2 separate regions of the Homo sapiens genome follow, and region 1 is linked to region 2. The links come from fine-mapping of genetic effects on gene expression. Tissue or cell type: whole blood. Region 2 holds a variant in brackets; the other region holds the start of a gene. All regions are shown on one strand. Distances are from middle to middle. Region 1 holds the start of SH3RF3 (SH3 domain containing ring finger 3). Region 2 overlaps SH3RF3 (SH3 domain containing ring finger 3).

The links.
Region 1: SH3RF3 starts here. The variant in region 2 is fine-mapped to the expression of SH3RF3 in whole blood (INTERVAL, PIP 0.95).

What each region holds. Positions count from the first base shown.
Region 1 is chr2:109,127,882-109,130,782 of GRCh38, forward strand. It overlaps SH3RF3 (SH3 domain containing ring finger 3), which reads left to right and starts at 1,324. Exons shown (of 10, transcript NM_001099289.3): 1 at 1,324-2,232. The coding sequence starts at 1,660. SH3RF3-AS1 (SH3RF3 antisense RNA 1) reads right to left here and starts at 2,238. Exons shown (of 1, transcript NR_029193.1): 1 at 1-2,238. It also overlaps a transcript of RANBP2 not described here. RefSeq lists silencers at 540-599, 980-1,049, 1,060-1,109, 1,140-1,339.
Region 2 is chr2:109,228,494-109,231,394 of GRCh38, forward strand. The region is part of intron 1 of SH3RF3 (SH3 domain containing ring finger 3); the gene reads left to right. It also overlaps a transcript of RANBP2 not described here. Among named protein-coding and RNA genes, the nearest start is that of MIR4266, 84 kb to the right of the region's middle. The variant C/T (reference allele first, on the strand shown) is at 1,669.

The sequences.
Region 1 (2,901 bases), 100 kb before region 2:
TTATCTGGCAGAGCTGTTTAGAGGATTAAATAATATATAGCACGCTCTTGGCCTTTTAGCCTCAACAAATACTACTTTTTTCCTTAATAATAACAGAAAGATCATACAACTTCACAAACCACAAGGACAGGCTGGCCGATAGGCAGGCCCCCCACGACTCTTCTGATGTTAGCCCTGACTGAACTCGCTGTGCAGCGTCCAACCAATCCTGGTTTGTGCTGGGCCCTGGACTGGAACCCAGCCCTTCCCGACGGGAACGCAAAGCGGCCACGAGGGGGCAGCGCACGGCAGGGAATCTTCGCCGCCGACCCCAGCCCACCGCCAAACTTCCCTGCTGCTCTCGGTCCTCCTGTACGTACTTCCGTTGCTCTGACGCTCCCAGAAGCCGGGGCGTCGGGAAGGAGAGCGCGAATTCACCCTCCTCTGCGCCTCCGTAGGAAAAAATTGGAGCGGGGGTTCACGAGACTGCGCCGCGGCGGGCGCTAGAGCCCCTCGCACAGCGTCGCCAAGGGTGCGGCGTGGAGCCGGGCGCCTGGCGCCAGGGTGCTGGTCGGCGGGCAGCGGCGCCAGCCTCCGACCCGCGACTCCGGCGAGCCAAGGCTGCGCCGGGAGGAGTCGGCGCGGGCCCCGGGGTGCCCCCTTCAACTGGAGCGCCTTCCCCTCCTGCCTTGCGGCGCATCCCCACACCTACACCGGAACGAAGCTCCGGGGCTGTCACTTCTGCGCGCTTCTCGGAAAGGAGTCTGAACTGGGAGCGCTCCGGGGGGTCGTCGGGGAGGATGCCCGGGCGTCGGCTGTGTCCCCAAGCTGCTCGCCGGCGCTGGCGAGGAAGGCAGTCGGGATAACGCCGCCCAAACTTTCCTTCGCAGCAGCGTTGGCAGGAAACGTCCCTCTCTGAGGCTCACGAAAAGCCGAAAAAGACTCGGACGCTTGGAGGAGGCAGGGCCAAGCCTGCGCAGGAGAGGTTCCCCGGAGCCCTGGAGATGTCCTAGGGGACCAGGCTAATCGCCGGCTTGCGCCCAAGCGAAGGGAAGTCCTGCAGGCACGGCGCCTCCTTCCCTGAGCCCCGCAGTGACCGTGACCTCCGCGCGCACCCCCGCGCACGTGCTCGCGGCCGAGGAAGAGGAACGGTCCTGCTGAATCCTCTGGAGGACAGCGACTAGCGAGCAGGCCAGGGGCGCATGGAGGTGCCGCGGGGGCGGTGCGGCTCGCCAGCTGCGCGGAGGAGCGTGCACGCCGCGCCCCGGCCTCCCCGGGGACCTGGCCGGCCGCTGCCCGCACTTCCTGCCGCTGGTCTCCCAGGCGCGAGCCGCCGCTTGCAGCACAGAACCCGTTGAGCTTCGTGCCCGGCAGCACCCCCGGTCCCCCGCGCGGGGCGGACTTGCGGCGGGACAGGTGTAGCCCGCAGCCGCAGGCGCTGCGCTCAGGACTGGGCGGGCTCGGCTGGCCGGTCCCCGCCACGCAGGCCGGTCCCCGCCACGCAGGCCGGTCGGTGAGCCACTTCGCACCGCCACAGCCCTAGCATCGGGCCACCAGCCGGGGTGAAGAAAGTCACGGCGGAGCCCGGCTCCCCAGTCCTGATGCTGGCTGCCGGTGGCGGGCTCCACGCCGGCCCCGGGACCTAGGCAGCCGCGCGAGACCGCTGCGGGCGCCTCCCCCATGCTGCTCGGAGCGTCCTGGCTGTGCGCATCCAAGGCGGCCGCCGCTGCTGCGCAGAGCGAGGGCGACGAGGACAGGCCAGGCGAGCGACGGCGGCGTCGGGCGGCGGCCACCGCCGCGGGGGCGGGCGAGGACATGGACGAGTCGTCGCTGCTGGACCTGCTGGAGTGCTCCGTGTGTCTGGAGCGCCTGGACACCACGGCCAAGGTGCTGCCATGCCAACACACTTTCTGCCGCCGCTGCCTGGAGAGCATCGTGTGCTCGCGCCACGAGCTGCGCTGCCCCGAGTGCCGCATCCTGGTGGGCTGCGGCGTGGACGAACTGCCCGCCAACATCTTGCTGGTGCGACTGCTGGACGGCATCCGTCAGCGGCCCCGCGCGGGCACCAGCCCCGGCGGCAGCCCGCCCGCGCGTCCCATCCCAGGCCAGAGTGCGGCCCCCACGCTCGCGGGCGGCGGGGGCGGCGCGGCAGGCAGCACCCCGGGTTCCCCGGTTTTCCTCTCCGCGGCCGCGGGCAGCACCGCCGGCAGTCTGCGGGAGCTGGCGACCAGCAGGACCGCGCCGGCGGCAAAGGTGAGTATCTGTCTCGGCGGAAGTGGCCACGGCACGTGGGAGTGTGTGGGTGGGTGCTTGGGCGTGGGGGGCAGTGATGAGGTGCGGAGGAGACCACGGGTGGTCCTGCGTTGGCCCACTCCGCTGTTGCTCTTCCTCCAACTTCGCTTGCTTGGTGGCGGCATCCGGCCCCTGGGCAGCTCGCCGCTTGTTCACGTGTGTCCCATCCTCCTGTGGAGTGGGCACGCCTTCCTGTCCCGTCGCTCACCCCCGATTCCTTGGCCGGACTTGTTACCCTGCCTCTTAAACTTAGCATCGCCCTTGCGTCTCCCTAGAAACGGGGACCTTCTTCCTCTGGGTCCCCAGACACTCCCTCTGCACACCCTGGGCCTGCCTAGAGAAAAGTTAGCCCTTAACGTTTCTGACAGGGCTCTGATGGCTGCTCTGGGAAGCCCGCGGGCCTCCTGCCTGCGGTGTGGCTAAGGAGGGGAGGGCAGAAGGCAGAGTGGGACTGGGGTTTGGAGGAATGCTTCTAGTAGTCTGGAAGGAGTTAATCTGGAGGCCCCAGGAGCCTTTTGACCCAGCCCTTTTGGACTTGGCAGTGTCTAACCAGAAGCCAAGGTCTTCTCCTGGGCTCCCAGGCAGGGTTGCATTCCCACGGGGGTCATTTATATTTATTATTATTATTTT
Region 2 (2,901 bases):
ATGCCAACTGGGTATTCAGTTCAGTTCTGACCCCTTCCATGTGGAGCTAGTATGGACCCTGCAGGTTAAGGGCTCAATCTCATCAGGCTGCCTTCACTTCAGAGGCCAGTTGCAAGAGGTGTCTTCAGGTTACCTGGAACTTCTGTGTGGCGTGGCTGCAAATCTGGTTTATTATATTAGTGGAGGGCATGATAAAAGATACAGGCAAGCAGCCAGATGGAGAGGTACATAGGGCGAGGTCTGGAAGGGTCCTGAGCACAGGGGCTTCCGTCTCTGTGGAGTTAGATGTACCCTCTCCAGGTGGGTGGATGCATCCACCAGCCAGAATCTCCCCAAACTCCAACTTGTAGGGATTTTTATGGAGGCTTCTTCACACAGGCATGATTGGTTATCAACACAATATCCAGCCCCTCTGCCCTCTTTGGAGGATGGGGTATGGAGCTGAAAACTCCAAGTTTCTGGTCATGGCTAGGTCTTTCTGGTGACCAGCCTTCATCCAGGAGCCACCAGAGTCACTTCATCAGCACAGAAAAAAGGTTTCCATCACCCAGCAAATACCAAGGGATTAGGAGCTCTGTGTTGGGAACCTCAATCAAAGACCAAATATCAGAACAAAAGATACTCCTAGCCCCGCTATCACTCAGAAAATTACCAGGGATTTAGGAGCTCTGTGCCAGGAACCAGGGACAAAGACCAAATATGTATTTTTATTATGTCACACAGCTGTTCCCTTCCCCCTTTTTAGTACACTTCTTATTTGGAGCAGTGGTGAGTAGAGTATGAGGAATTCTGACATACCCACACCCCACTTCCTCTGTTGTTAACACCTTACATTAGCATGGTACTTTTCATACATTAACATGATAGTTCTCCATTTGCAAAGCTGTAGTTTTTTCCTGCCATCCTTTTTCTGTCCCAGGATCCCATACTGCCTCACAGCTGTCATGTCTCCATGGACTCCTCTGGCTATGACAGCTTCTCAGACTGGTCCTGGGGTGGTCACGGCAGGTGGATAGTGGCCTGGAGCTTGAGAGCCCGATACGGGAGGGATTTGGGATGTGGGCTCTGAATTGGTGGGTTTGCATTAAAAAGGCACACTCATGAGCAAGTTGTTCACTATCTCTAGGAATTGGCAGCCCCTCCAGGGTCAGGAAGGCCCCAGATGTGAAAGCATCAGCATACAGAAAATAAGACATGGTGACTACATCTAGGTACCTCGTATAACTGGAATCATAGAATATTTGTCCTTTGTGTCTGGCATGTCACTTAACATCATCCAGGCTCATCCATGTTTTGGTATGTGTTTAGATTTTTTTTCTTTTCTTTTTCTTTCTTTTTTTTTTTTTTTTGAGGCGGAGTCTCGCTCTGTTGCCCAGGCTGGAGTGCAGTGGCGCAATCTTGGCTCACTGCAAGCTCTGCCTCCTGGGTTCACGCCATTCTCCTGCCTCAGCCTCCCAAGTAGCTGGGACTACAGGCGCACGCCAGTATGCCCGGCTAATTTTTTGTATATTTAGTAGAGACAGGGTTTCACCATGTTAGCCAGGATGGTCTCGATCTCTTGACTTCGTGATCCGCCCGCCTCAGCCTCCCAAAGTGCTGGGATTACAGGTGCGAGCCACCGCACCTGGCCGATTTTTTTTTTCTTCTTAAGGCAGACTAATATTCCGT[C/T]GTATGGATATACTATATATTGTTTATCCATTCAAATACGGACATTCCTCAACTTGGGATGGTTTGACTTTAGAGTTTTTGACTTTATGATGGTGCAAAAGCCATATACTTCCAGTAGAAATCTGTAACCCTGGCCAGGCATAGTGCCTCACGCCTGTAAACCCAGCACTTCCGAGAGGCCAAGGTGGGGGGCTCTCTTGAGGCCAGGAGTTTGAGACCAGCCTGGCCAACATGGTGAAACCCCATCTTTACTAAAAAAAATGGAAAAATTAGCTGGGCATGATGGTGCATGCCTGTTATCCCAGTTACTCGGGGGGCTGAGGCAGGAGAATTGCTTGAACCTAGTAGGTAGAGGTTGAAGTGAGCTGAGATAGTACCACTGCACTCCAGCCTGGGCAACAGAGAGAGATCATCTTAAAAAATAAAAATAGGAAAGAAAAGAAACTGTAACCCCATTGTAAGTCAGTCTTCCACTTATGGTGGGGTTATGTCCTGATAAACCCATTGTAATGTCAGAAAATCGTAAGTCGGGGATCATCAGCTATGTCACCAGCATTAAGTACATTTTTTAACTTATGATATTGTTGACTTAAAATGGGTTTGTCTGGACATGACCCTATCATAAGTGCTGGAGCATCTGTGTTTGTTTCTAGAGAAGATAAAAAATTCCACTTCATTTCTAAATCCCCTAGGAGTTCACTGGCCAATAGGACTCCCTTTGGGGGCTTTGGGGGCTTCTCCCATCTCGGCTAAGGGACAGCTCAAACAGGAAGGCAGGATAGGTCAAACTCATTTGCAGTAGGAGTTGGGTTGAATTGTGTAAGACAAAAGTACACTTTGTTATGTGTGATTAATTGTCACAGTTCCTGAATGTCAGCACGGACAGAGCAGCAGAGTTGGCTTCTGGGACACAGTTTCCATCTGCTGTCCCTGCCTGGAAGGAGGCTTAGGTGGCTTGCCTAGCATGGACTTAGTGACCCCATCTCCTCTCCTCCCGGAGCCAGGCCAGAGCGGCTTTGCCGAAGTCTCGGATGAACTGTCAGGCTGGAGCAGTTCTTCATCCAGGGGCTGTTTCCTGCTCTAATTACTGCTCTTTCTTCTACAGCTGAGAGGAATTGGTGGGTGGATGTGGGAGAGGTGAGCTAATGCGATGACATTTTGACAAGTGTGTTACAATAAAAAATAACTCCCCTGGGAGAAGGTTAATGCAGTTATCACCACGTTCATGTTGGC